Linked DNA regions of Homo sapiens: region 1 is linked to region 2. Evidence: fine-mapped expression QTL. A gene starts in region 2. The other region holds a variant in brackets. All regions are shown on one strand. Distances are from middle to middle. Region 1 overlaps IL1RAP (interleukin 1 receptor accessory protein). Region 2 holds the start of IL1RAP (interleukin 1 receptor accessory protein).

Region 1 (14,798 bases), 54 kb after region 2:
TAGTTTCTATCATTCCCCAGCCTCAGTGTCCCTAAGTAGAGAAATACTTAATCATCAAATTGTCCTCTGGAGAGAGGGTACAATGGAACAATTCCTTACCTTGTTTAGAAGGATCCATGAACCCCTAGCACATCAGTCTTGAATTAACCATCAAGACAGTGAGCTAGTTACAGATCTTCCTAAGAGGTCAGTATGAATATTCCTCACCTCTTCTCTCAGGCTCTCCAGTATCACACAGTCAAACAAACTAGGAACTGCAAGTTCAGTGCTCTTTTTAAATTGCTCTTTCACCTTCCACTCACTGAAAACCCAGTTCTAGTTCTCCCTTGTGAGGGACAGGACTTCATGATGGTATTTCTTACCTCACCCCACAGAGCATGTTGCTATTCAAAATATTAAAGCACAAAAGGGAATCAATCTGCTCACATTCTATTCCAAGCTTCTAAAGATGGCAGGTGGTATATTATGTATATATGTCCTCTCAGAGTGCTGAGCACTTTGAAGCTATTTCCTAAAAAGGGAGAAGGCAGTATCTAAGAGGAGTGTGCTAATGTTTTCTTATGAACTTTGACTCTGCTGTTATATCAGTAAAGGTTAGCAGTACTGGCTTGGTAAGCTGAAAGTTGGGGCATTTCATTGATCTCTCCATGTACCTCCACTGCTAGGCATTTCTGGAATATTCAGTGCTTAATGACAAGGCTGTGTTATTTTCAAAGTAAATGTTGAAAATAGAAACCATATTTAGGTTAAAACACCTTTCTTTAAACTGTCAAAAAGGCTCCATAAATCATTTGTTGAGTTTTTAAAAAGAAAAATCATACCACTTAAAATATATTTCTAATTAATGCACTGTAACATTAACTTTTTTGGGAGTACAGCTCTTTGAATATTAACTCATGTATCGAATCAAGTAACCACTGTGACAAACAGGATACAAAACTGTTCTGTTTCTCCAAACAACTCTCATGTGCCCTTCTTTTGCAGTCATACTCTCCCATTATCCCTAACCCCTTGATCTGTTCTCGGTCACTCCAGTTCTGTCTTTTTGAGAGTGTTATTTAAATGGAATCATACAATAGGCATCCTATTAAGGTTGGTTTATTTAATTCAGCACAATGCCTTTGAGATTCATCCAAGTTATTATATCAACATATATAATGCTCATTGCTTAGTATTGCTGAGTATTATTCTATTTTTTTGGATGCCACAGAATTTGTTGATCCATTCACTTGTAGAATGACAATTGAATTGTTTCCAGCTTTAGGCAATTAATAATAGGGCTTCTACAAACATGCAGGTATAGCTTTTTGTATGAAAGTAAGTTTTCATTTCCCTTGGACAAATATCCAAGAGTGAGATTACTGGGTTGTATGGCAAGTTTATGTTTAACTTTATTAAGAAACTGCTGTTTTCCAGAGAGGGTATATGGACATTTCATATTCCACCAGTATGAGAGTTCCAATTGCTTTGCATCCTCTTCATCACTTGGTATTGTCAGTATTTATTTTTTAATTTTAGTCATTCTGAAAGGTGTATTGTGGTATCTCCTTGTGGTTTTAATTTGCATTTCCCTGATGGCTAATGACATTGAATGACTCTTCATGTGTTTATTTGACTTTTGCATATCGTTTTGGTAAAGTGTTTCTTTATGACTTAAACATTTTAAAATTGAGTTGTTTCTTGTATGATTCCTCCAACTTTATTCTTCTTTTTCAAAATTTTTCTCAATGTCTTAGGGCTTTCTATTTTCATATAAATATCAGAATCAGTTTCTCTATAGCTAGAAAAAATCTTTCTGGGATTTTGATTGGAATTAACTAAATCTTTAGGCCATCTTGGAGAAAATTGACTTCTCTATGTTGAGTTTCTCAGTTCATGAATATGGTATGTCTCTTCTATTATTTTCTAGTACCATTTTAACAAATTACCAAAAACTTAGTTGCTTAAAAAGCACCCATTTATTGTTGCACAGTTTCTGTGGGTCAGAAGGCCAAGAACAATGTGGCTTAGCTGGTTCCCTGCTTAGGGTTTCGTAAGGCTGAAATGATGGTGTCAGCAGTATTGTGTTCCTTTCTGGTGACTCTGGAGATGAATATATTTCTATTCCTTTAATAGTTATTGGACTATTCAGGTCGTCTGTTTCATCTTAGCTGAGCTTTAGTAGTTTGTAGTTTTTGAGATGTTAGTCCATTTTATCTAAGTTGTGGAATGTATGAGCCTGGAGTTTGTAATATTGCCTTATTACCATTTGAATATCTCCGTGATCACTAGTCATGTCCCATCATTCATTTCTATTTTTAGTGATAGTACCTTTTTTCCTTACTTAACGTATCACCTGGCTTGAGGTTTATGTTTTATTGTTCTTTTCAAAGAACTAACTTTTGGTTTCTTTATTTTTCTATATGTATATATTTCCTGTTTTGAAATTATTTGATTTCTACTCTATAAAATTTCCTTTATTATGCTTGTTTCATTTATTCTTCTTTCTGTAGTTTCTTAAAGTGGAAGATTAGATTATGGGCTTGCTATCTTTCTTCTTTTCTAAGATAAGCCTTTAGTGCTACAAATTATCCTCTAATCACTACATTAGCTGCATCCCACACACTTGGTATGTTTTATTTTATTTTTGTCAAGTTAGAAATATTTTCTAATTTCCCTTACAACTTTCTTTTCAACCCATATATACTTTATTTTAAGGCATGTATTTTAATTTTGAAGTGTTTGGAGATTTTCCTATTATCTTTCTGTTATTGATTTCTAGTTTAATTCTATGGGGAGAGAACATACTTTGAATTCTTTTAAATTTGTTAAAATTTGATTTATGATACATGATACGGTGTATCTGGTGAATGTCCTATTGAAAAGAATGCCTTATTTTTTACTTTTAGAATCCTCAAACAGTTGTTCCATCAAATATGCCCGCGTTTTATAACTGCAAAGACAGGATGAAGAATATTTACTTCATTTTACCCCAAATCAGAGTCTTCCATGTCACTTTGCCAAAACTTTCATTTGCTGATAAATATTAGATTTGAAATATTCTGCACAAGGATCCTATTTTCAAAAAAAGCCCTGTAAACTCCACAAAAGACTGATGATGAAAATAACTCTCATGTCTTACTAAATGCTATCCCTTTTGTGTAGAATGGAATAATTAGTAGCTTTTCCTGTTTTCTTCAAAGGCTTGTTCATTGTATCTTAGGTAACCACAGAAATGCCAGACCTACTCAGACTTTTTGCAGTAACTTAGAGAAAATAAAAGGAAAGATCTGAATGGGATTAGGGCAGGATTGGGACTCAAGGAAGTGATTTGACTACAGGGTTGACCTTTTATGGGGATGGCCTTCTGGGGTGTATTCCTTGGCGTGAATGGCCAAGTTTTCAAAAGTGCGAATGGTCGTAGTTTTCAGTGGGCAGGTCATAGAAAAGGGTGTCAGTCAACCATGGCAGAATGAAGCAGGTTTAGCAGTTTCATGGTTATAGGAGGTTTATCTAGCTGACTGCAAGTCTTTACAGGGACATAAGGTAGGCTCCTGGAAGAGGGTGCTGACGAGCACCAGGCTGAAGGCCTAAGTGGGTGTTTTCTGAGTATAGAGCTATATATGGGATCAGGAAACTGAGGGACAAATCCAGTCCTGTGATCTGGTGAAGTGCTGCTGAGCGGAAGGCAGGCAGAACAAATGGTGATTCATGGCAAATCCCACCCTTGGCACAGCAAACCTAGTTTCAGCCTGTCACCTGCGGGCTAGGTGAGAGAATTCAGTGGTCAGAGTGATGCAGATAAGGAGATGCTAATGATTACCAAGTCTAGAGAATGCAGACGATAAAAAGTTTCATATGCGGAAGTAGATGTTAAGGTGCTGAGCACGTGAAGACCCATCTTTAACATTGTCGTCGATTACAGAGAACTAAGTACATTTTAAATCTTCTTGCTAAATGATATAGTCATTAAAGTTGATATACTGGGAAACAATAGGATTAAATATGAGAGATGTACCAAAAGATAAGGGAGGGAGCATGAGGATTATCATGCAGTAAATTACACGGATAATGCAGGAAAGGCTGGGAAGATATTATATGTAGGTTAGAATCATCTGAAGCAACAGCAGGGTCTGTTAGGCCCCATTGCAATAATCTAAAGCTAAGCTCTAATTTAGACACTGAGAATCTGTGTTTATTACCCACGTCCCTTTGCTTTCTGACAGTTCCTCCATCTCTGACCCAGCACCCTCTCACTCTAAGACGCAACAACCAAAAGTGTATTACTCTTTACGATAATAAAATTCTAAGGCTGAATACAAGACAATGCTAAATGACCCAGCATTCTCTGAGAGGTTTCAGATCAGCCAGGCGCCTCCCAATAACATTGGTACCTTTAATCTGTCAAAACCAGCCTGTTCAATCACGTTTCCTTTTCAGTCTGCTTTATTCTAATTCATCACAGGGCAGGACTGGCCCTGGATGTGTGTTCGCAGACAGGTTATCTTTAGATTAGCTTTGCCTTGGTGACCTGACTCTTTGCTGCCTTCAGCATAATCCAGTTACTCTTGGGAATATCAATTAAGGCCCTCAATCACACTAATTAGAATGTCTTATAAATGTTGCCTTAGGAATTCAGCAGCTTATAAACAGGCAAACTGGGAAAATCTAGAGGTATGTGGGGGTTTTTAAATAGCTGACAGCAATTTGGGAGGGCGTATTGCTTTAGCATAGCTGAGAAGTGGGGCTGAAATTACGGTTCCCTGAATGCAGTGAAATCTCTAGTTGCTCTTTGCTGGCAAGTTTAATGCAGAATTATTAATTACATTTATTAATGACTTGGATGAAGATATAGGTTGCATGCTGATCAAGTCTGTAGATGTCACAAAGCTAGGAAGATAGCAATTATTGTGATAACAGATTCAGGAGCCAAAATGACTTCAAGACAGAATTTAGCAGCCATCTATCTAATACGCGCCTGGCAGTGCTCTATAAAGTACAATTTGAGGGTCATGTTGCTCCCCTACTCAGAAAACTTTGGTGACTCCCTATTTGCTCTTTAAATCCCAAGCCTTTGGCCTGTTATTTAAGGCTTTGCCATATTATGATTCTACCACTGTCTGCTTTCCAACAAAATCTTCTGTAGTTCTTTTTCTAAAACCTTGTGCTTGAGCAAAACTCAGTTCTTTATATACTATTTTCCATTTGTGTTCTATGCTTTCACTACCTTTGAGCATTATTCTCCACTGAAAGTTTCTTTTTCTCACATGTTCCTTCTGTCTCAAGTCTAAATATCCATACCAGTTCAAATGTCACCTCTTGTGTTTCGTCTTCTTTTATTGTCTTGGCTGGAGTGACCTCTTTCCTTTGCTAATCTTCAATAACACTTATCTGTTCCTCTCTATTTTTATCACTTTTTACTTCATATTGCAGGGGGTTTTTTTTTTGGTGCACATTTTAAGTTTCTGTTAGACCCTGCCTAGTGCTAGAATTTCTGTCTGGTAACTCTTTTTATCTCTTAAGTGTCTCTAGATGTGTGTTCTATACATAGTTGATGATACTAAAGTGTCTTGCTGGGGGTTCATCTTTACTGTGGAAAAGTGCCTTTAGAGAAGACCCTACATTTTGCCCATGAGAGGCTTCGTAGCTGTATCATAGCAACTTGGAAACTCAAAGGATAAATCCTTGAGGGGACGGATATTCCATTTTCCATGATGTGCTTATTTCACATTGCTTGCCTGTATCAAAACATATCTCGTCCACACACACACACACACACACACACACACACACACACACACATCTGCTACATAACCACACACACACACAAACTAAAAAATTTGGAAAAGAAGGAGAAAATGCTCAATACATGTTTTATTGAATAAATGAAAGACTGATGGAGAGAAAAAGATTTCCCCAAGGTCATAATATAAGAGCTGGAAGGAAGAGGTGCTGGGAAGAAAACATCATTTAATTTATCAGATGAAACAACAGCTTGTGATATGACGAGCTCACCTGTGATTTGTGTACAACCAGGCTAAAAAAGGAAGCATGAACCAGAGATTTTTGGAGAGGTGTGGTCAAGAGAGGTGACGGGAGTTGGAAACTTGCATAGTCCTTTAGGGTGGCCACACCTCTTGGATTCCTTGTGTAGTTTATATCTTTTGTTATAATTTAATGCTCTTAAAATTGGCCCATTTTAAATGATGTTATATGGTCATCTTATTTATCAAATACCTCTTTGATCTGTTTAAGCTGCTGCATACCTGTGGTTGTGAAACTTGTGGCATAGGCTATTTGAGATAATAATCTTTGTAGTTAGCCTAATGTGGATATAAATAGCATCTTTGTCACTTACTGGAAATATGAGCTGGACAAGTTATCAAGACCTCTGCAAGCATTCTTATATGGCTGTTACCTTCGACACAGAAAGCAGAGTTCTTGAGCATGGAATTTCTGCATCATCTTCAGGTTTCAGTATTTATAACCCACAGAGGTTTTACCAGTGGCCAGATATTTCTTGGGTAGTAGAAAAAGAAATACTTCACAGAGCTGTCAAATCTCCACATCTTCAGCATTAAATATCATGCAACCAAATGTAAGGGTATGGTTCACAGCAGTTGGCTGTTTCAGCTGGTTATTAATAGGAAGGCGAAAGATCATAGAAAGTTGACTCCTCCCTCATCATTTCTGTCTTCCAGTGAGAAGAGGAGAGCACGAACAGCAGGAATTAGATTTATATATTTTCCTTAATATAAATTCACAGTATGGTAGATTGCAGACAAAGTCTGAATCCAGGATTTCTAGACTTTCTATGTGTCTATGTGTCACTAAAAGGGAAAAGTACCTGGATTGTAAAGTATTCCAACTAGAAATAGACCAAGGGAATGCAAAGAGGGGTAAGAAGGTTGAATTTATCTGCCAGAAATGTAAATCCTGGTCAAAAAATCCAGATGAATATTTTTTAAGTAGGCAGTTATAGTTCAGTGAAAAAGAGAGTTGTGGAGCCAGAAAGCTGGAGTTTGATCATAGCTCTACCACTCTCTAGCCAAAGGATCGTGGTGATGTTATTGAAACTTGTCTCTAGCCAAAGGATCTTAGTTATGTTATTTAAACCTGTGTATTAAACTTCTTTATCTGCATGTAATATGGGAATTGAAAAACAAACAACAAAAAAACAGAAACAAAATAAAACCTGTCTTATTGGTTGGTTCTGACAATGAAATTTGTTAATATTGTAAAATTCTTAGAACAGTCCCTAGTCTATAGTCAGCAGGCATGAATGCTAGTTATTATTATTTAAGCCCTTGAAAGTAGTAAGTGATTTCCCTTACCTTTGTATTTATGGTTACAGGATGACACTTCTGTGGTGTGTAGTGAGTCTCTACTTTTATGGAATCCTGCAAAGTGATGCCTCAGGTAAGTGAATGGCTTTTGACAATGTATTAAAATGCAAGTCATGCGTAGGGTAATGAGTCCACTCTTCCTGAAAATGAATTTAAATAAACATAATGTTATTCATGTCCATTGTCTTCTGCGGTAGCAAATAATCATAAAGCAGAATAATAGAATTTTGATGATGGAAAGAACCATTGCTGTCTCTAGTCTTCATGGGATAGAGTACACAGGGGGCAGTGGGCCGCTGTGTTTAAACACAGGTATTTTTCATTACCTTCACACTCAGCCAACTAGAATATTGCTTTTTTCCCTTACCTCAGGTCCTATGGGGGAAAAATGGGAGTGATAATAGCACAATCTGTTTTTCAAATTTGAGCCAGTGGTGGAAAAGTTATCAGTGGTAATAATCCATTGAGATGTTAAATAAAATAATGAGTTTTTGTCATATTGTTTCTATATAGGAAAAAGAAAGGATCTGTCTTTAGACTCATTCTTTCTCTGGATGTTGCTTTATAAGAGGAACCAGCTAAGACCTTTATAGAGTTTGAAAACCAAACTCAGTCATCATGGGCCTGGATCACGTGAAATTAGATATGGAAGAGACTTGCTATTTGAAAGTCCATCTTTTCAGATCTCCTCTTCTTCCCAGAATTATGCCCAGAATCACTCTCTATCTCTGACTATTAATCATTACATTTCAGCCTATGTTTTTGGACTAATCAAATTCTTAGAAAGTTTTTAGTACATAAAACTGAAATTTGTCTCTTTGATTTTAGTATCTAAAACTGAAATTTGTCTCTTTCCAAACATTTACTTGGTTCAACTGTAGGACTGAAAAAAAAAAAAGAAACAAACAAACAAACAAACAAAACAACCAAAACCTAATGCAATGGTTCTCTAATTGTAATGAAGGGAACCTAGAGGTCCTCATTTTATAAAGCTTTTCATGTAAAATTCCCCTGAACACCATAAACCATACTTTACATATCGTTGCTTTAATTCCTTTTCTTTGTGAGAGGGCTTCTGCAATGTTAAGTTAGCTACCATATAACCATGACCTCAGTGTTCTGCAATATATGCCTTCAACTGTTTTTCATATGACATGGATTTGAGCTCTCCTACCATCCTGATCATCTTTTCTGGGTGCGTTTCAGCTTTTCTATGCCACATAAAACATTGTATTAGAAACCAAAAATAGTACTAAAGGAGTGGTATAAGTAGGACAGAGTACAGCTCAGTGCTGAAACTAGCAGTAACTTCTAGCCTTGTTGGCCCTTTGGGGCTTCACAGAGGAATGGCTGTAGATAACCGGAGATGTTATTCGGCTGGGATGCGCTAGGAGACAGCTCCTTGGCTGTTTAGTCCAGCATCTGTCCTGCTTGGTTAGGTGTCGCGTTTGATAGGTGAGTTTCTTGATGTCCTGATTTTCAAATATGTTAAATATAATTCTTGATTTTAGTTTGTTCTTATTTGATTTAGTTCTATGTTTGAATGCTATCTGCTCACAGAGGCTTCCTTGACCATCTTAACTAAAAATCCCTACCAGTCACTCTCTCTCCCTCCATCCTGTTTTAGTTTTCTTTGTAACACTCACATTCCCTGATATTATATTAGCCTTCTTTCTCTTCTCTCCTCCTCCTCCCTCTTCCTCTTCTCTTGTTTCCTCCTCCTTTTCCTTCCTTTTTTTCTTCCTGAACTCCCTGTCCTTCCTCCTTTTCTGCCTCCCTTCTTTCCTTTCTCTCCATCTCTTTTTCTTCCTCCTTCCCTCCCTCTGTCTTGGATTTTAAGCTGCCTGAGGGCAGGAACTTGTTCAGGAACTTTTGTTTGTTATCCAAACACTCAGAATAATACTGACACATAGACACATAGCAGATGCTCAATACATAGGTGTTAAATGGTTGAATACATGTCCCTTTACATCCTTTCCCCTGCCCCCAGACTGTCCAGTTTTATAATGGAACGTGTTTGGGTTCATGCCAGTAATTCATCATGTGGTTTTATGTCCTCCCTCATCCTGAAGGAAGAGGGACAGGTGACTGTGTTACCATTGCTGAAGGATCATGGAGGTTCCAGAAGCTAATGAGTGCTGGTGCCTTCCCAGCAGTCCTGACCATGTTACTTTTCTGAATGACCTTTACTGTAATCCATCCAAGGAGTCCCCAGCCCCCACCTCAAGTGCTGTTGGTAAGAGAGCTTTCTATCCAGGAACTGTGACTCATAATTCTGCCAGGGGAAGCTAACTTCTTGAATAAGATAAGTTCTCATACCAGCCACATTGCGTCACCGTGGGAGCAGGAAACATGTTGTAATCCCCTCAGCCCATCTGGCACGTACTCATTTGCCTTCCTTATGAAGAGGTGTATTGTGTCTGACAGTGATGCCACTTCCTAGTTGGAGGGAGAGGAACAAAAAGGACATGTTGTTGACAAAAACGAAAAGAGCAACTGGCTCTGGGCTAGTGGGG[G/A]AAGAAAGAAATCATTGCGCATCTTGAGGGATCAACCAACCTCTCTGCACATGAAAGTATTGCCTTTTACAAGGCATCTGTGGATGCTGACAGATTTGTTGGTCTTTCATGAGGCTCTCCCTGTGCTCAGGTTCCCATCTCAACGGAAACACAGGTTGATGTGAGGAACAAAGCAGAAATGTTCTGAAAACCCTAAAGCAATCTACATGCGTATCATATTAGTAAGACATTTATTTTGTTCTGAGTCCTTCCATGTGGGCCTTTTAAGAGAATCCTCAAATATAAAAAAGAAACCATAAAAGCATAAGAACTTAGCGCCATGCAATGTGTTTTCACACGCAGTGAACTGGCCGTGAAGTCATACGATTCTGACTTCCGATCATGATTTTTCTGGTAGCAGTACTGTGATCCCCTTATCCCCTCAGGAATGGGGGAGCAACATTTTCATCTTAGGTGATGATAAAAGCAAATGATTTTTTAAGAAAGCTTTATTTCCCTTTAAGGAATTAAAGCTTGGATAATTATAATAGCGATTCTATAATTATAATGTGCTAGTTATAGTAATAATAATAAAGCTCCCTTTGCTTAAAAAAGCAGTTTGCATTGTACATATTCAATGTCAGTCTCACACCCAAACCATGGGGTAGTCAGAGCTGTTGTAACTACCTTTGTTGGGTAAGACAAGTTAGGATCAAAGTATTTAATTGTATTACTCGAAGTCACACAGCTATACTTAGCATGCTTGTGACTTCAACGAGTTTCTGGATTCCTGACATCCATATTATTTTTACGAAATATGCTCCAGTTGGGGTCTATTAGAATATAAATTACTAAGAAAAAAGATTAAGATCTAAGGGATCACAGGTAATCATTTTGCAAACTGTTGAAGAACCACTCTGTGATAGGTTTCTATGCTTTGTAGGTAAGGTATATCCTTACACGCTTATCCTGCCCCCTCACAGCACTGAAACATTTTCTTCAGGAGGAAAATGATTGTAATACAAAATTCAAACCCAATATTCCTTTTTTTGCTTATTATAGTATTAAATATTTTCACTAATAAACTCGAAGAAGTTCTGTTTGTAAGACTTCGAAATGGAAACTTCAGCTCAATACACGTCTCTTTTGCTGTGCCTCATTGGCAGTGTGTCAGGAAGCTGAACTGTTAAAAGCTGCCTTTGGAGTAGACATAAATTTTGGAACCTGTGATCCCAAGTTGAGGAGGTAATAAAAATAGCACCATATAGAATATAGTGAATTTAAAAAATATTACCATATCAAAATTATTTGCTGGACAAATCACATGAAAAAGAGAGTACACTGCCACCCCAAAATGCAGGCACACACACGGATCTTTGAGAAAGATTTTATTTCAAAGTCAACAGTTGACTGTGTGCCAGGTGCAGGGCTGGATTTCACACACATTATCAGGAACTTCGCAGGAACCATTGTACAGGGGTAGGGGCTGGAGACTCTTCTACCTGTTTGATAGTTTAGGAAATGAAGATCCAGGGAGGTGGCCCAAGTGCTCATGATAGCCTGGCTTGCCTGATAGAGCCAGGCTGCCTTGACTCCAGAAACAGTGCTCTTTTTTATTTTTCCATACTATAATTGCCTTTCTTTAGGACTGTGCTCTGCTACTAGAAGTAAGATCCTCTGATTCCTTTTCCATTATATTTTACAAAATTGGTAGAGAATGGAAATCATCTATCCAATGATTGGGAGTGAATTATACAATGCAAAATAAATAAATAGTAAAAAACACTGTGGTTTCCTAGTAATTGAGAGATTCAAGTTCTGTTTTACTCTGTGACTTGTTTGATGACAGTAAAGGGGTCATTTCATCACTTTTTGTCATTGCATCCTTATTTATAAACCAAGCCAACCAACCAAACAATTAACAAACAATAGCAGCAGATCCCAGTCAATTCCAGTTTCTTGATTTTTATGAAGGAACACTATGCATCATGGACACACACAGGGTATACTCCTATTAGCTACTTAAATTCTTTCTAATAACAATGTTAACAATGATTTCACTTTATTCTAAAGATCATGCGTTTGACCATTTTAGATTGTAGAATCCAGGGTTAGTAAGAGGAATTTCTTATTTTAAGAGGAATACAGTAAAGTTTGAGAGAAGGAAGAGGAAATAATTACCAAATAGAATTCCGTGAGAGCAGAGAAAGTTACCAATCCTATCAGGAGATATTGGGGAAGACTTAATCATTGCTCCTTCCTAGGAAGAAACGCATCTCTTATTTGGGAATGAAATAGTTCAGGGCAACTCAAAAGATAGTGCAAAGGCATTTAGAAGCCAAGCTGGAAAGGTAGGTTGGGAACAAATTATGCAGGACGGGAATTACTTCAGGTAAAGAGAATGTCCACATTTAATGTATTTTGGTTATAGTTGGCTAGGTTTCTTTTCCTTTTTTTAAATTCTGTCGTATTTTTGCAAGGACATACACTATTATTAATTCTATGTGATGGTTCTTTCACCTTTTGGTAAGAATTCAGTTTGTTACCAGCCCCAGTGGCCTCATTTTATTTGAATATCCTTGCTTTAATAACTCCGTGCTCAGATATACTTGTGACATTGTGTCCTGTCCCAGTTGCCCATGGCTGGTCATCCTGAACACTCTTCATTTCTATGTAATTTAGTCCAAACATTTGGAAAATGTATGAAGAATACTGTTTCATTTTATTCTTAGTCCTAAAGGTCATTGGAATTACAGAATTTCACCCTGTTGTCATTTAAATGATGCCTCTCGGAAGCAGATCTCTTCACTTTTTTTTTTTTCTTTAGCTGTGTTTATAGCTTGAAGCACACTTATATTTTAGTTACTTATATTTCCCAAGGGTGGATTTACTGTAGCCTGATTGAAAAGAAATTTAAGTACCACATAATTGGCTTGATACTGAGTTTGCAAATACACAGCTTCTTGTATCACAGTGATAATTCTAAGTTTAGAAAAATGACCTGGTTCTTTTTCACATGGCTGTGTTAGTTAAAGGAAACCAGTATTTTTGTAGGAACTCCTGCATACCGTTGTAGGAAAAAATGTTTGTTTTACAAGAATTTATTCTACCCTTTGAATTACCTTTGTTTTTGCTATCCTTTCCCTCACTCCCCCAACCCTGAATATTCATTTCTACCATATTTTAGGGACCAGATTGCCACCTTAGCAGTGACTCACTACCAAGACCAGTTTCTACCCACTTTTCTTTCACCACTTAAAAAGTTTCTTTTCTGTTTAACTGATTAACTTTTTAGAAAATAAAATATATACCCACCCAGGATAACAACACAATGATTGCTTTATTTTTAAATCCACTGAGTGCTGCCATCTCTCATTTATTTTTGAGGAACAGTGAGAAAATGGATACATTTAACAAATAATTTGGGAACCTCAGTCACCTTCAAGTTACCTGCTATCCAAACCTATAAAAGCTGATGTACAAAATTTTCTGGCTTTGCCTTTGCGTGTTTTAGAGATAGTGGGAATAATGAAAATGCAAGATGACTACGACAATGAGAGAAAATAAATAAAATAATCACTTCCTCAGCAACCTAGACCATATTCTGTTGTGTTTTATGACATTCATTTCTCCTTCTACCATAGGAACCAAAATGCTTGGTATAGCTATACATTACTGGGAAATAAATAGCACTTTTCTGCAGTGTTTGTAGGGTCTGAAATAGTTTAAGGCTCTTATCCATCAGCCCATTTTTTTTTACTTCTGAGATACTTTCATATTTATTTATTTATTTATTTATTTATTTTTTGAGACGGAGCTTCGCTCTTGTTGCCAGGCTGGAGTGCAATGGTGCGATCTCAGCTCACCTCAACCTCCACCTCCCAAGTTCAAGTGATTCTCCTGCCTCAGCCTCCCTAGTAGCTGGGATTACAGGCATTTGCCACCATGCCCAACTAATTCTGTATTTTTTTGTAGAGATGGGGTTTCTCCATGTTGGTCGGGTTGGTCTGGAACTCCTGACCTCAGGTGATCTGCCTGCCTCAGCCTCCCAAAGTGCTGGAATGGCAGGCTACTTTCATATTTTTTTTAAAGTGCTCTTTAAGGTTTATAGTAGTGTTCATTTTGATATGTGCACCAAGATACTGGTGTTTGCGTTTCCCCCTTCCCTTATGTAAGAAAATGTTATGGTCTCTTTGAGATTTGGACTTGCCACCCAGTGCTACCAAGACTGACCAATTTAGTCTATTTGCCAATTACGTTTCCTCAGTGGAACCTTCTCCAGGACCTACTGCATACGTGTAGATACTCAAGAGGAAAGAAAAAGAAAACAGGCACATCGATCATGATTTTTTTTATGTGTGATTTTTTCTGTTAACTATTGCTTTTTATTAATTTATTATGGTGGGTTTTATTTTTTCCTAATTACTTACCCTTGCATAAGAAGTATAACTATGGGCCAGGCACACTGGCTCATGCCTATAATGCCAGTACTTTGGGAGGCTGAGGTGGGGAGATTGCTTGAGGCCAGAAGTTTGAGACCAGCCTGCACAAAATAATAAGACCCTGACTCCACAAAAAAAAAATTAAAAAAATAGCTGAGTATGGTGATGCACACCTGTAGTCCCAGCTAATCAGGAGGCTGAGGTGGGAGGATCACTTGAGACTGGCCGGTAAAGGCTAAAATGAGCTGTGATCACGCCACTGCACTCCAGCCTGGGCGACAGAACAAGACCCTGTCTCTCTCTTTCTCAAAAAAAAGTACAACTATAGTTGAAATATAGACCTTTATTATTATTACTAGATGAGAGATTAAATTGTATTTATCATATGTAAAATGACATTTCGAAGTATTTATACATTGTGGAATGACTAAATCTAGCTAATTAACATATGTATTACCTAACATAGTTACCATTTTTGGAGTGAGAAGACTTTAGATTCACTGTTATCACTTTAAAGCAAGCTTGTCCAACCCGTG
Region 2 (15,475 bases):
ATTATGTGGCCAGCTGAACATATTGGCGGAGGAAAATGCATCTTTTGGAAACATAGCACCAATAAATAAAATGGTCTTCGGGGCAGTGAAAGTGTCTTGGTGTCAGCAGCAGCAATCAAAGCCATATTGGAAGCAACATGGCCAAGTAAAGAAAGTAAAGGGTCCTGGCTTCAGTTGGGGGAAAGGCTGAGAAATGCTGTCCCATGAATTTTAAAGGAATAATAACCTTAAGGTCTGTGACCATGAAGGGTCTTTACAGGGACCAGAATGAGTGGTGATATTAAATCTTGAGACCTTGGCCAAATTCCAACATGGGTAATTACATTCGGCCAATTTAAAATTCCCTGCGCAGTTTCTAATGCAGTCCCCTTCTGTGCTTCTCGATGCCAACCTACTGCATGCTGCTGTTCTGCATTGATAGGTAACTGTTGACCTCTAGCCTGAAGGAGGCCTTGAAGCCACGAGGGAAAAATTTATTATAAATGTCATTTCTGTCTTTTACTTCTAAAGAATCCCACTTCCAAACATGTAGGCTATTATAGAAAAGTCTAAGGATCTTTAAGTGTGGTGTATTTGGCATGGGTATTCTTCCATGACCCTACCACCCAGGTTTGGGTTGTTGGGGGAGATACAAAGAACTTTATACTTTATACAATCTGATTTCCAGTCCAACTCTTCTAGTTCTTATTACCCGTGTGACCTTAAGCAACTCTCCCTTATCAACTTTCAAGAACCTCTCATGGTTTCAGAAAACAAAACAATTCTTTAACATAGCCAGGCCCCTCATAACTAGCCTGCAATCAGTCTTTCCTACCTTATCTATACCTACTCCCAGGAATTGAGATTCAGTCAAAAAAACTAGACCATTTTCTGTTCCCTTTCTGTGCAAATTCATGCACTTTGCCTATACCCCTGTTGTTTCTACTGTCTAAGTGACTCACAACTTCCTCTCTTCTAGAAAAATCCTATCTGTCTCTCGATACTGATCCTAAATATCAACTCCATGAAACCTTTCCTTGATTTCTCAGCTGCAAATCGTGTTGTATTCCACAGTATAAATGTGAATGTCTATAGTTGTCATAGCTTTCGTTTTAGAAATTGATCTTTTTAAGTGTACGTTGCATTTCCTGCGGAACACAATACAGGATTTTGCATTTACTGTTTTAAAAACTGAATTGTTTTAATCTTTATTTTCATATAGTAGCCTATTTGAATGTAAAAGCAGGTCTGAAAAAGGAAGGAATATATAGTTCGCTTGAGGCTAATAAGTATACACAAACACAGTCATCTCTTAATTGTTCTTTCCTGTGGGATTTTGGTTATATTCAATAACTATATATGTGCAAGTTTTATCAAATGTATTTTAAATTTCATCACCTCTTGTGACAAAAATTGTGGCATTATTCTCTCTGATAAATACATTTTTAAAATTTTCTTTCTTTATTTATTTGAGACAAGGTCTTACTCTGTTACCCAGGCTACAGTGCAGTGGCATGATCTTGTCTTACTCCAACCTCTGCCTCCCGGGTTCAAGCGATTCTTGAGCCTCAGGCACCCAAGTAGCTGGGACTACAGGCGTGAGCCACTGTGCCCAACTGATCTTAGAAAGATTGTCCTGTGTATTAGGCCGTTCTTGCATTGTTGTAAAGCAATACCTGAGACTGGGTAATTTATAAGAAAAGAGGTTTAATTGGATCATGGTTCTGCAGGCTGTAAAAGCATGTCATCAGCACCTGGTTGGCTCCTGGTGAGGACCTCCGGAAGCTTACAGTCATGGAGGAAAGTGAATGGGGAACAGGTACCCCACAGGGTGAAAGCAGGAGAGGGAGAGAGTGGGGAGGGGGTAGTGGGGACGGAGGTGCCACACACTCTTGAATAACCAGATCTCACTAGAACTCACTATCACAAAGACAGCACCAAGCTATGAGGGATCTGACTCCATGATTCAAACACCTCCCATCAGACCCGACCTCCAGCATTGAGGAATACAAATTCAACATGAAATTTGGGTGGGGAAAAATATTCAAAGTATATCATCCTGGAAGACCACTAAGGAATCAGCAAGTCTAGTCATTCCCTCTATCAAATTTCAGTTTTAAGAGTCATGATAGGGATTGGGCACCTCTATTATTAAATACAAAACTAACCATACAAAAACCTATAAAAGGAAATTTGAAAAACAGAGGTGACTTGGATGTTTAGCAACGGCTGATGACTACTGTTCTAGGACAATACTGCAGTTCAGACCATTTTAAAGGTTAGGAAGCAGAAGCTCAGAAAGCAGAAATGATTGTGTCGAGAACAGACAGGGATTCTGCAGCCAAACCTAGACTGGAACTGAGGCCATCTAGCAGCAGTTAGGTGAATTAGCAGTTAGACAGACCCCTTTGTTCTCTATATCTCCACCCCTATTTACCATCTCCAGGGTTCTATATCTGGGCTATCTGAATGGCTATTTTAACTTTTACAGGTTACAATTATAAATATATTACAAACTAGTATGTTAATTATAGATCATCTTAAAAATTCGATGCAGAAGTCTCACTGCTGCTTTTCTTTTGCTGCTTGGAATTCAGTCAGCCAAATTTGCCTCAGGCCCAATAATCTCAAGGTTTACCTCAAGTGCTCTTACTTAATAAAGACAACCTCTCAGTTGAGGGAGCACACATGTTCCCCAAAGAGAAGCTATCATTCACCAACAAGCTCATTTTCTAGGCAAGTTATGACTCAATAGCTCATGAGTTTCCAGGAATAGTGCGTGCATGAATAAAAGCTACAAGGGGAAGTATTTAATGCCAACAGGAATAAAGATATTGACTATTATATTAAGTCAAAAGTATGCAGCCTGTAGCAGTATGATTTTCTTGATCTGAATGCTAGTTACATGGTTGTACTTCCTTTGTTAAAAGGCATCAAGCTCTACATATATGATTAGTGCAGTTTTATGTATTCATGTTACACCTCAATAAAATGTTGATTTAATATAATAAAAAATAATAATAACATAGCACTGCCTTACTTTGTCATTTAGAACAAGGCAGAGAGTGGCAAGTAATTACAAGAAATTATACCTGACAACCACGTCAAATAATTTAATGTTGTCACACTTTAAAATCCAGTTTTCTGAATTCCTAGCTCTGCAATGTTGGGCAAGCCATATTACCTTCTGGAGCCTCAGATTTTTCTATATCTCCTAAATAGAAAAAATAAATACTCAGTTCATGAAGATCCTATGGTGTGATAACATAATATTGGTTAAACAAAAAGCACAGACTTAAAAAGCACCTGTCTCTCAGCAGAAATCAGTAACTCATTTATTTGTTCTCATTTGTTTGTTCAAGCATTCTTTCTGTCAAACACCATTCTGGAACACAAAGGCAAATAGATAAGCTACAGTTTTGCTTTTTGAGTAGCATAAGTAATATCTTCCCTCACCCCACCCCTTTTCTTCCGATGCCTGATTCAAGTATAGTTTTCTAACCATTTCTTCCAACATCTGCCACATGTTCTCTGGTTAGAGTAGGAAAATTGACCCTGCTTCACTCTTCCCTCCTCTCAGTGGTGTGTGAAACACCTTCCAATGGGCTTACATGGAGTACCATACCATCTTTCATAAAGCACTCACCACATTATTCTGCAGTTATTTTATTTTTATAACAAATAGTACCTGAGTGGATGAATGGATGCATACTCTTCCCCTGCCCCATTACGTCTCACACCTTCCTCCTTGGTCACCATAAACCTTAATTCGATCTCTCCTTCTAATTTCTTCTAGTGATACCCTCTCTCTTTCTTTCCTTGATACGCTCTAAATAGAAGTACTCCTTCTGGCCGGGCGTGGTGGCTCACAGCTGTAATCCCAGCACTTTGGGAGGCCGAGTTGGACAAATCACCTGAGGTCAGGAGTTAGAGACCAGCCTGGCCAACATGGTGAACCCCGTCTCTCCTAAAAATACAAAATTAGCCAGGCATGATGGCAGGCACCTGTAATCCCACCTACTAGGGAGGCTGAAGAAGGAGGATTGCTTGAACCCAGGAGGTGGAGGTTGCAGTGAGCCGAGATCACGGCATTCCACTCCAGCCTGGGCGACAGAGCAAGACTCCCTCAAAAAAAAGAATACTCCTTCCTCAATACCCCGATGTTACTATATTTTAACTTTCTTACTGACCTTAGTGTAGCATAGGAAAAGTATGGCCTTTAGACTCTGTTAGACCTGGGATTTGCTCCTGGCTTTAACATTAACTAGTGGTGTGGCCTTAGATAAATCAGCTTCTCTGACTCCATTTTCTCATTGCTAAAAGTAGAGAAACAATTTCTACTTTTTAAGGATATTGTGAGGTTTAGAAGTAATTGATGTTTAAAGGGCTTGTCACATGCTCAATGCCAATTGCTCAATGAAGAGGAAATATTATTTCAACCTTGTATTGACAACCATGTAGACATTTTATCTTCTTCTCTTCTCTCCTCTTCTGGCCTATAATGAAGGAACCGTGGCTACTGTATCTCAGCAATGCTCACACTGTCCATGTAGAGCAAATGTTCAACACGTTTGAAAAGATGTATGAATAAAAGATAAAATAAATTTCTCAATGTTGGTGGCAGAGAAAGAATATCATACAAAGTCTCTGCATCTCATATGAGTACTTGAAAATTATTCTCCAAAGGTGAATAATATAAGTGCCTCTCTGCTAGTGGATCATTCAGTCTTCCTGTTGCTGCACAAAAAAAATAGAACTGAATGGCACAGTTCACTCATCCTGCTGTGAGAACAAGCACATATTAGCACAATTTTAACTGGCACCAATTGGCTGTTATTCACCAGATTGTGACCAATTTAGATTAGGTCTGCCCTTAAATACTGTAGTGGTTTAGCTTATGGAATAATACAGGTGATAGTATCTCTATGAAGAACATTCTTTCCATTTAGATCAGATGTTGGAGGCTAGAAGCTGATAAATGTCTTAACTACTTACAAGGCCAAGTTAGAACCATAAAGGCAAGTTTCCCTTTTTGCATGCAAAGTTCTTGCCTTTGAATTTCCTGATGTAGTAAAGTGTCAATAATGCATAATAACCATCCTCCAAGACTTTATTAAAATCCTGACCTTTGCTTCAAAGCTTCTGTTTGGAAGAAGAAAAACGAGGAAAGAAAAGTAGGTCCTTTCTAACAGCCTCCAGGAGCTTTAGGCCATAGGCCAGGAAGACAGGCTGTCTTTTGGAAAACATGCCTTTGCCTGTCACCTTCACTGATATTGCCCTGTGGTGGCACTGGAGGAGCATCACCAGGAAGTCAGACATTAAAGGAGAAGCAACTCAGACAATAGGATTCTGATTCTGCTACTACAAGTATCTACTGACCTCTGAGAACTGCAGAACTCTCAGAACATATTAACTTTTTTTTTTTTTGAGACGGAGTCTGGCTCTGTCGCCCAGGCTGGAGTGCAGTGGCGCGATCTAGGCTCACTGCAAGCTCCGCCTCCCGGGTTCACGCCATTCTCCTGCCTCAGCCTCCCGAGTAGCTGGGACTACAGTCGCCCGCCACCACGCCCGGCTAATTTTTTGTATTTTTAGTAGAGACGGGGTTTCACGGTGTTAGCCAGGAAGAACATATTAACTTTATCCAAAGCCCTGCACTAAATGATTTGACCAAACTCTAGCATAGCTTCTAGCAGCATGAGGTCATGTCCCTAGGACGACCCCAGCTCCATATTAAAACGCCTGCTTGAGAAAGCTCAACTCTCCCAGGAGGTTGCTGTTTGCTCTAGCCAATACCTGATTATAGGCTCTTGACCTCCTCTTCTTAGAGAATCAACTTAGAAATGCTTACTTTTGTGAATGCTTATATTTTACAACTCAGTAGTGTCTCTCTCAGGGACCTGTGCACCATTCCTTTAAATGTAATAACCAGGAAAGATGGGGCCTCTGTCTCCCAATCTCTGTGGGAGAATAGAATTCTAACTTCAATAAGTGTCAGGCAGCAGTCACAGTTAGCACAGCTAGTCATTTGCACTGATCAAACCCTTAGTAATATTTCACTTCTCAGGCTCTACTGAGATCCTGCTCTGCTACCTCCCTCATTCTCCATTTAAAAGGCCAAACAACCTCTACACAAATAGGAATGAAGCTCAGCTGTTTCCTCTGCTATCAATAGTTACTAAATAAAATCTGTTTTCATGGCTTTAACTAACGTCAGGCAGTGTTTCTCTTTGACACCTCCACGTGGGAGTAGTGCCCTGTGATGGGAGTCAGCTTCAACCCTATGCAGATAAATAGAGATTGGAAGGGTTCCAGAAGTTCCCCTTTCCCCTCTTGTCTTTCAGGACTGCATGTAACCCAGGTAGTGAGTCTGAAGGATAGAAATGAGTGAAGCTGGCTAGGCGCGGTGGCTCACGCCTGTAATCCCAGCACTTTGAGAGGCCGAGGTGGGTGGATCACCTGATGTCAGGAATTCGAGACCAGCCTGGCCAACATGGTGAAACCTCATCTCTACTAAAAATAGAAAAATTAGCTGGGAGTGGTGGTGGGCACCTGTAGTCCCAGGTACTCTGGAGGCTGAGGGAGGAGAATCACTTGAACCTGGGAAGCGCAGGTTGCAGTGAGCCAAGATCACACCACTGCACTCTAGCCTGGGCGACAGAGCGAGACTCAGTCTAAAAAAAAACAAAAAAGGAAAAGAAAAGAAATGAGTGAAGCCTCCCACTGCACAGTCAAATTTCCAATTTCCTCTTCCAAACGACTTGAATTTCAATAGTTGGGTATATGTGTTTGAACAAATTAGCATATCTCTTCAACAAGGTAGAGTTGAGCTCTTAGTAATCAACACCTTATCATTACTGTTTAATCTGCTTATTTCCCTACACCTAGCCGAATCAAACTGAAGGAAGAGAGGCTTTTGTCAGAAACAGATGCAATAAAAAGGAAGAGGGATACCTGACTTGGAAACCCAGGGCACCACAGAGGAAGTGGGGGCAGGCATAACTAAGTGCTGCGAGGGGAAATGTGAACACCCAGAGAACAGGTACAAGGGTCAGCTGGGGATGGAGGAGAAAAGAGCTGAGGGGTATAAAAGGTGGAAACGTAAAAGGGTTTGGAAGGTGATATAATTACTTTTTCCTTTTTTCACTTTTTTTTTCTTTTCTCTTGGCTCCTGCCCTTCACCTTCCTTCCAAAAGCTCAAAATAAAATGTCTCTATAATGTGCTTTCTTTACTCTGTACCCAGCCAAATATATACACATATATATACGTGTATATATATATACGTATATATATGTATATATATTAAACATATATACGTATATATATAGACACACACACACACACACACATATATATATATATAATTTGTTGTTTTAGTTTTTGTCTTCCAATGATTCTGATCTCCCAAAAAAATGTAAATCAAAGGAAGAGGGCGATATATAAGTCACTTAATATCTTTGTATCAAAGTTTAACCATGAGAGTTTTGGACTGAATTGTAACTCAACAAATGTTTATTCAATGAGTACTACGTGCAAAATATTGTCTGTTTGCCAGGGAAACATTATATTACCCTCCCGGAGTTAGCATTCTAGTGAAAACAGCATTCAATAAGTAAATTAATTAAAATGTTACGTAATGTATTATTTGACTTGGTTGTCAGGAAAAGCTTTGCTGGGAAGGTTATAGTGGAGCAGGGACATTAATGAAGATGTGAGTAAGAGGAGAGAACAAGCAACAGGGGAACAGCGGTCCAGCAAGGGGGAACAGCAGGTGCAAACACCCTAGTATGGGAACATGTTAGTGTGTTTGGTCGACAGCAAGGAGCATGCTATGGGAGATTGAAAGAAGCAACTCAGTGCTGGATCATGTAGGGCCACACAAGGACTTTTAGGCCATAAATGACTATGGAAATTTATCTGATCATGATAAGAAATCACTATTTGAAAGCAGAGAATGACATATTTCTTGTAAAAGAATAATGAATATTTATATTGCATTTCTACATGCCAATCCCCATGCCAAGTGTTTTACTTATATAATCTCATTTAATTTAAAAACAGCACTATAATGTATATTATTGTCATTGTTATTCATATTTTTCAGAGAATAAAACTGTGAAAAAAAGAAATTAAGTAACTTGACCACATTATGTAAACTTGATCCCAGGTAGTCGGGCTTCAGATTCCTTGACCTCAATCACTAGCCTGTATTTATTCTATTTTCATTTATAAGGGTCTCTGAAGTAAGGGCAATAGACTCTTTGGGTAAGAGTTTAAGCAGGGACACCAGTGAGGGGAGAGATGGCAATGACTTGAACCATGGTGGTTGTGATGGAGAAGAGGAATAGCGTGGTTGGATTTGAGATGTGTTTTGAATGTAGAGGAAGCAGAAGGTTTGTGGATATAATGTGTACAGGCAATGAGAGAGAGTGATAACTCCAACTTTTTGACCTGAGCAACTGGGTAAAAGACAGTGTTGCTTACAAAGCTCTGGTTTGGTGTGGGGCAGAAATAAAGTTTGAATTTGAACATGTAAAGTTTGAGATGTATTTAAAACATCCAAGAAGGAGATATGAAGGAGGTAATATGGTATACAAAGTCTGGTTTGGGCTTTAGATTTAGATTTGCAAGTTATTATCATATTGATATTTTAGAAGGCCATGTGTCTGTCTGAGTTCCCCTAGGTAGAGAATATAACCACTTCAAGGATTGAGCTCTAGGACACTGGAACCTTCAGAGATCATGAAGAGGTAGAGGATTCAATAAGAATCTGATAAGGAACAGCAGATGAAATACATGAAAAACAAAGAGTCAAGTACGAGAGAGTGTGAAAGAGCAACAGATTATCTGTGTCTAATGCTGCTGATACATGTACAATGAAGACAGAGAATTGATCACCACATTTGGCAAAGTGAAGATCATTACAGATGCTGACTGTGGAGTGGTAGAGATAAATGTCTGAATGGATTGGGTTCAAGAGACTAGCAAACTCCTGATGCGTCTTACAGCTACAGCAAGATAATTAAAGATAACCTAAAAAAAAGGTGGAGGGTAAAAGCTGGGAGAAGAAGAGAATAATAATACCTTTCCAAATACATCAATCAATTGCAAAATATTTTATTGTGCATCTTCTATACATCCAGCAGTATTAGTCACTGACATCAATGAATTTGTAGCTTCATTTATTCATTTAGGCAACTATTATTCATCAAATGTTTAGTATGTGATGGATATTTAATGGGTATAGCTTTAAAATATTTTTCTCAATTGTTAGCATAACATTTTTTCATTTTTAATTATTACGGGTACATAATAGGTGTATATATGTATGGGTGACATGTGATGTTTTGATACATGCATACAATGTGTAATAATCACATCAGGGTAATGACAACAGGGTGTCATCACCTTGACCATTTGTCACTTCTTTGAGGAACATTCCAATTTCACTCTTACTTATTTTAAAATGCATAATTAATTATTGTTGACTGTAGTCACTCTGTTGTGCTATCAAGTGCTGGGTCTTATACATTCCAGCTAATTATATTTTTGCAACCGTTAACCATCCTCCCTTCCCCACAACTCCCTTGCCTCTGCTACTCTTCCCAGCCTCTGGTAACCATCATTCTACTCTCATATCTCAGTTCCTTTGTTTAATTTTTAGCTCCCACGTGTGAGTGAGAATTTGCAAAATTTGTCTTTCTGTGCTTGGTTTATTTCACTTAAATGTAAAAGGAAAAAGAGATGTTTCTATTTCTGTAATCCTAACATATCAACATTTTTTCACATTCCTTTCAATTGGTGTTCATCTCTCCACAACTTTTACTCAACCTTATTTTGTAAGCCTTTTTCTTTGTAGACATATTTCCATAATATGATAGTTATGATGCAAATATTTTATTCTGTGCGTAGACAGCGTTGGTTAACTAATCATTTTCATTTCCAACCATTTATATTGTGTTCAAACTACAATATACTATGAATATTTGTCTATATGATTATTCATCTTAATGTTATCTTCCTTAAGCTATGAGTAGCCCTTCAATGTCCGGGAATATACATCTGGTTCAATTCTGAATTACTAGCATCTGTTTGGCTTCTAGGTAGTACATGAGACTGAGTAGCGGCTGAGAGCATGAACGTCGAGTGTCTCTAGTCTCATTTTGTATTCTCCACTTGTAGGCCTGTAGCCTTGGTCAAGTTATTTAAATTCCCTTTATCTCCTTTATGAACTGGAGATAATAATAGCACCCTCCAGGTTGTATTGAGGGTTACCTGAATTAATATACACAAAGTCCTTATGATTGCACCTTTTTATTTTGTAAGCACTGTGTAAATGCTTCAGTGTACTATATATATATAAAAGTCTGTGCCCAGAATATATTTAAGGAATGAATAATAAATCAGAAAATGTTTTATTGTTGCTTCATACAGGTAACATTTTAAATTCTTTTGGATTATTTTCTCTTTGGTTCAGTGACAATGTTGTGAGCAGGTGCTGGGTCCCAGGTATCCTGAGATAAATAAAAATTTTGAGCAATTAATTTTCATAAGTGATGTCAAGAAGTAAAGTATCATGAACATTTCTATGGCTCCAATTACACTGATATTTCACCTTAGGAACTGAAGCTCCGCCAGGGCAGGGGCAGCCTCTGAGTTTCGTACTGCTGTGCACCTTTAGCAGCACGGGCACCTGCTGGTTTCATTTCCTTCCCACTCACCTGGGCCCTTTTCTTATTTCACATCTTTTTTCTCCTTTTCCTTAAATGCTTTCTCTGAATCTTGATTCTTGAAAATAAATTAGTAGGATTCAGTTAGGTAGGAGGAGGAGAAAAGAAGATGTGATGAGCAAGAAGATGTGCGAAGACTCGTCAGTCTGGTAGGTGGCTTTGGTTAGGGGGTTTCAGAAATGGGGACAGGTCATGAAGGGCCTTGCCAGTCAGGAAAAATCATGAGGCACTAGCAGTAGGAACACAGCAGAAGGTGCCTGAACAAGAGAGATGACTTAATGAAAGCCTTTATAACGCTTCCCGGGATATATTACAGACTACCATCTACAGTGGCAGAGGGCAGCTGAAGGAAGGCTCTTGCAAAAACTTGGGGAAATGGAAATGAATGAAGGCAAATATTTGTTTTGAGATTATTTCCTTCTATGTAACCTATTAGTTCTTTTATTCGTTCCCCATACATGTATTGAGTGCCTACTTTGTGCCAGGCACTGTGCTAGGCAATGGGTATATTACCAGTGGACAATACAGATTTAGTCTTGCTGTCATGTCCTGTTGCTTGCTCATATGAATGTCAGTTCAAGACAGCAAGAGCTCAGGACTGCGGAGATCGCATCTACATCCTGCCGCGCTCTGTGCCGGCACAGGGTGGTTGCGAAAATCGTGCAGTCTGAATTGATTCAAGGCCTTGCAGCATGATTGCTAAATACGTCGAGACAGGAAGAAAGGGCAGGGTGGCACCGATCTCAACTGCGAGAGCACGATCTTGCAATGAGCGCATGTGTGCGCCTCGGTGTGTAGTGAGGGGCGTAGCTTCCCACAGCGCCTGGCAGCGTGCCGAGCTGCGCTGCAGGACTAACCCTCTCCTTTCCCCGCGCGCTCAAGCCCGCACAGGCGGTGGCAGGGAGCCGAAGGGGCCGAGCGCAGCCTTGCATCCGTCCGCAGGCGGGCCCGGCGCCGCGCCTCCTGGCGGCGGGCGGGACCGTCCAGGACGCCGCCCCGCGGCCGCAGCTCCTGGAAGCCCAGAGCGCCGGTGGATCGCGAGCCAAGGCGGCGGGTGGAGCCTGAGCCGTGAGGCCGTGGCCAATCGCGCCGCTCCGGGGGAGGAGCCCCAAAGGGGGAAAAGAAAGTGCGGCGGAAAGTAAGAGGCTCACTGGGGAAGACTGCCGGGATCCAGGTCTCCGGGGTCCGCTTTGGCCAGAGGCGCGGAAGGAAGCAGTGCCCGGCGACACTGCACCCATCCCGGCTGCTTTTGCTGCGCCCTCTCAGCTTCCCAAGAAAGGTGAGTCTCGCGCCGCCGTGAGGGCTCAGAAGTCACCAAGCCGCAGAATCTCAGGGTAGACGGATTCTTAGAGATCCTATCGTTAAACCCTCCTACTTTACAGAAGAGGAAACTGAGGCACAGAACGAGGCAGCGGCTGGGATAGGTCATACTGCTAGTTAGGACTGGAGCCCGGATTCGAACCCAAACGTTCAGAGACCCATCTTTGCTTTGCAGGGATTTAAGTAACGCGGTTGTGGGACGTCTGCTCGTTGCCGCCCCCATCCTCAGCCCTTTGAGGGGTCTACCCTTGTTTTCCTCCTCACCGCCCCCTCCCCGCTACCACCCCCCGCCCCCATCTCCTCCTTGGTTTCTCCAGACCGCTGCTGGAAGCGCCGAGGACAGAAGGAAGCGGTGTGTCCCAGCACGCCCACTCGGTATCACGTCGCTCTCAGCGCAGAGCTGTGACAGCCTGGGAAAATGCTGCTTGCAGCCTCACTCCCTCTTCCCCTGACCTGCTTTCTCAGAAAGATGCCCCTTCAGAGGGTGTCGGACCAGCTTCTGGAGGAGCGCGGGGAGAGAGGAGCGAGGCCCGGGCGCCAGTGACCTCCTATGGTACTGTTTCTTCCCAGCCCCGGAGGAAGCGGAGCTAGTGGCCCTGTGGGGCACAGGGTGCCCCTCACTTGGGAAGAGCTGACTTCATGGAACCATAGAGCCCCTTCCCTCTTCTAAATACTGAGAGGGAGCAAGGAAGCTGAGTTAAAGAGAAAATCACAAACATAAAAGCAAACTTCGGCTGTTTCCTTTAAGAGCTAGCCCACAGCCTGTCTTCCCTCCACCTTCTGGTTGTGAAATTGTGAACCAGGGCGCCACGCGAAGCATTCTGCTGCTCTGCTGTACAGATCCCTGGTTTAGCTACTGGATGAGAAAGAGGACTTGAGTTTTGACTCCAGCTCTTCCATGTATTAGCAGTGTGAACTTGGGCAAGTTATCTCACCTTTCCGATACTGGGTTTTTCTTTTCTTTCTTTCTTCCTTTTTTTTTTTTCCAGCCAAAAAATGGAGATTTATAATGGTCACAATGAGCCCTTTGGGTAGTTGGAAGGATGAAATGGGATCATTCAAGTAGCATGTTTAGCACAGTGCCTGGCCTGGCATCTGGTTGGTTCAAAACCAATGGCAACTATTGTAAATATTGTTACATAGTAACCTTGCAGACAGTGGGTTTTCAGAAAGGTGATTTCATACCATCTTACAGAGGCATTTTAAAAAAATCTGTAAATGTGGTGTCTTTCTTCTTTTGAATTTGAGCAACTCTTTTATAATAAGAATTTTCTGAATGTTGTCCATATGTGATGTGGATCATGGATGCTTAGCTCGAAATGTAAAATTGATGTTTCTCGGTGATATGAATTTCCTACTAGTTTTTAGGTCAAACCTCAGGCCTGTGAACTGCCCTGATCTGAGACATCCTTTATTGACAAAGAGGGTCTTGAAATGGGTGAGAGGCAGAAAGACAAGAAGACAAAGTTGGAAGTTGCAGCTGTGTTACAGATTATTCTAAGCCTTCTATCCTTGCTCTCTTAGGTCAGTCGAGCAACCTTACATTTTTCATCTAGTATCAGAAAACAAACAAAATTCTCATATATTTCTTTTGGATTGTACAGAGATGCTGCTAAATGCAAACCTTTCTGGACACAAACTTGCCTTATTTAAACACGAACACACAGACATTCACATGCCCACACTAGTCTTCCTGTATTATTGGTATTTTAAAGTTAAATGGATTCCCTCCCACACCCTTAACCCTTCTCATGACAATTGATTTTATTCTGATGAACTTCATGCAATAATTTACTACTATCTACTGGCTTTGCCATGCGTCCTTAAATTGAGTGTCCAGCATTTGTAGTTGGCTGCCTCCTTCACAGGCCATAGCATTTGTATGCAGTATTGGTAAGTGCTTGAGAACAGAGTGTGATACATCTTGATGGAAGATAAGAGCCCAGTGGTGCCCACTTAAGTACCTCCCGCACCAAGCATTAGTAAAGGATGGGATCACCTGCTTCTATCAGCTTGTTCCATGTACATGCATTGTGGTGAGCTGGCTGGGATATGACTGAATGTGTGCCTGAGAGACAGGGGCCTTGTGGGGGAAAAGGAAAATGTTCAAAATAAGGTCAGATCATGAGGATGGAAGGGAGATTAAAAGCTAATTCCTTTGGTTCTGATTCTTCAAAGAAAGGTTGGTCAATTATACCCATATCTTCATACAGATTATTACTTGTTACCAAAACCATATATATGTATAGAACTTTAAAATTTCCAAAGTGCATTCTGTATATATGATACTCCTTGTTACTCACAATAGCCCTGGGAGGACATGGCAAGAATATTAATAGAGGAAGGAGCCCAGGTTTTGTGGTCAGACCTACTTGATTTCAAATTCCAGCTCTCATGCCTGAGTAGTTGGGTGATATTGAGCAGTTTATTTAATCATTTGAAGTTTCTGTTTTATCCAGTTCTAAAATGGAAAAAAAAAATGCTTACTTTAAAAATCTGTATAACGAATAAATTCAATAGAATAATGTCAAGTACATGTAGTGAATAGGTGCTCATTAAATGATATCTCTTCTTAGCTAGTCTCAATTTATTTAGAACATAACTGGAATGAGACTCAGAGAAATGAAAAGTTGCTAGAGGTCATGTGTTAGTATGTTTCAACTCTGGGAATACAGTTCACACCTTTTCATGTCTAGTTTAGGGCATTTCCCATCACACTCTGTTTCCTCGCCAATGAGATATTTAACAATTTACTTCAGTTATAAAGTTGACCTTATTTGTCTGGTTATTTCAGGATATCCTTTTTGTTGAAAAGCAGGTATTTTCTTGCAAAGAGAACAATCCTTAAGCACAGTTCTGTAGAGTTTAGTGGAGCCAACTGTCATAAGAGGGTATTTAAAGCAATGGTCTCTAAGACAACCTTCCTACTCTCCTGTGTTGGATGTAATACACCTTTGATTCCTAAGAGAAAGGGTACTAACTAAGAAGACATAAAGTACAGAATTATATCACTCTTTTCTTCCTGTTGTGAGTGGTTTCTTCCCTCTGCCATCCTCATGCTAGTTCAAAGGCTGGGAAGAAGATTGAACAACAAATGTTATGAGTGTCCATGGCATTATTCAACTTTTTTTTTTGACAATTTTGTGGGTACTGAGTAGAGTAGACAGAATAATGTGCAAAGGTGGCATTTGCAGAAAGAGACCACTGCTTCCTGGTGGTGCTGATTACTTGTCTGGAGTTTCACTCCTCCTTGTGGAAAGTGATGGCTGGAGGCTCATGTTGGAAGATGAAGGGATCTGTTTCTGGCCCAGGCAGTGGGGCTGTTCATCTGCTGAGACTTCTCATAGGCCATTAGATTTCTCTTCTTTGTAGCAAGCACACAGGCTTGCAAACGCAGATGTAGAAGGAACATTTTGCTCCTTGCTTTTGGCATTTTGGAGCATATGTT

The links. PIP is the estimated chance that this variant, and not a neighbour inherited with it, causes the effect.
Region 1: its variant is fine-mapped to the expression of IL1RAP in whole blood (INTERVAL, PIP above 0.99).

The regions. Positions count from the first base shown.
Region 1 is chr3:190,556,956-190,571,753 of GRCh38, forward strand. It overlaps IL1RAP (interleukin 1 receptor accessory protein), which reads left to right. Exons shown (of 12, transcript NM_002182.4): 3 at 7,334-7,398. The coding sequence starts at 7,335. Among named protein-coding and RNA genes, the nearest start is that of IL1RAP, 50 kb to the left of the region's middle. RefSeq lists an enhancer at 8,902-10,101. The variant G/A (reference allele first, on the strand shown) is at 9,842.
Region 2 is chr3:190,502,234-190,517,708 of GRCh38, forward strand. IL1RAP (interleukin 1 receptor accessory protein) reads left to right here and starts at 11,852. Exons shown (of 12, transcript NM_002182.4): 1 at 11,852-11,986. RefSeq lists silencers at 2,607-2,901, 11,439-11,788 and enhancers at 11,199-11,288, 12,041-12,542, 12,543-13,042.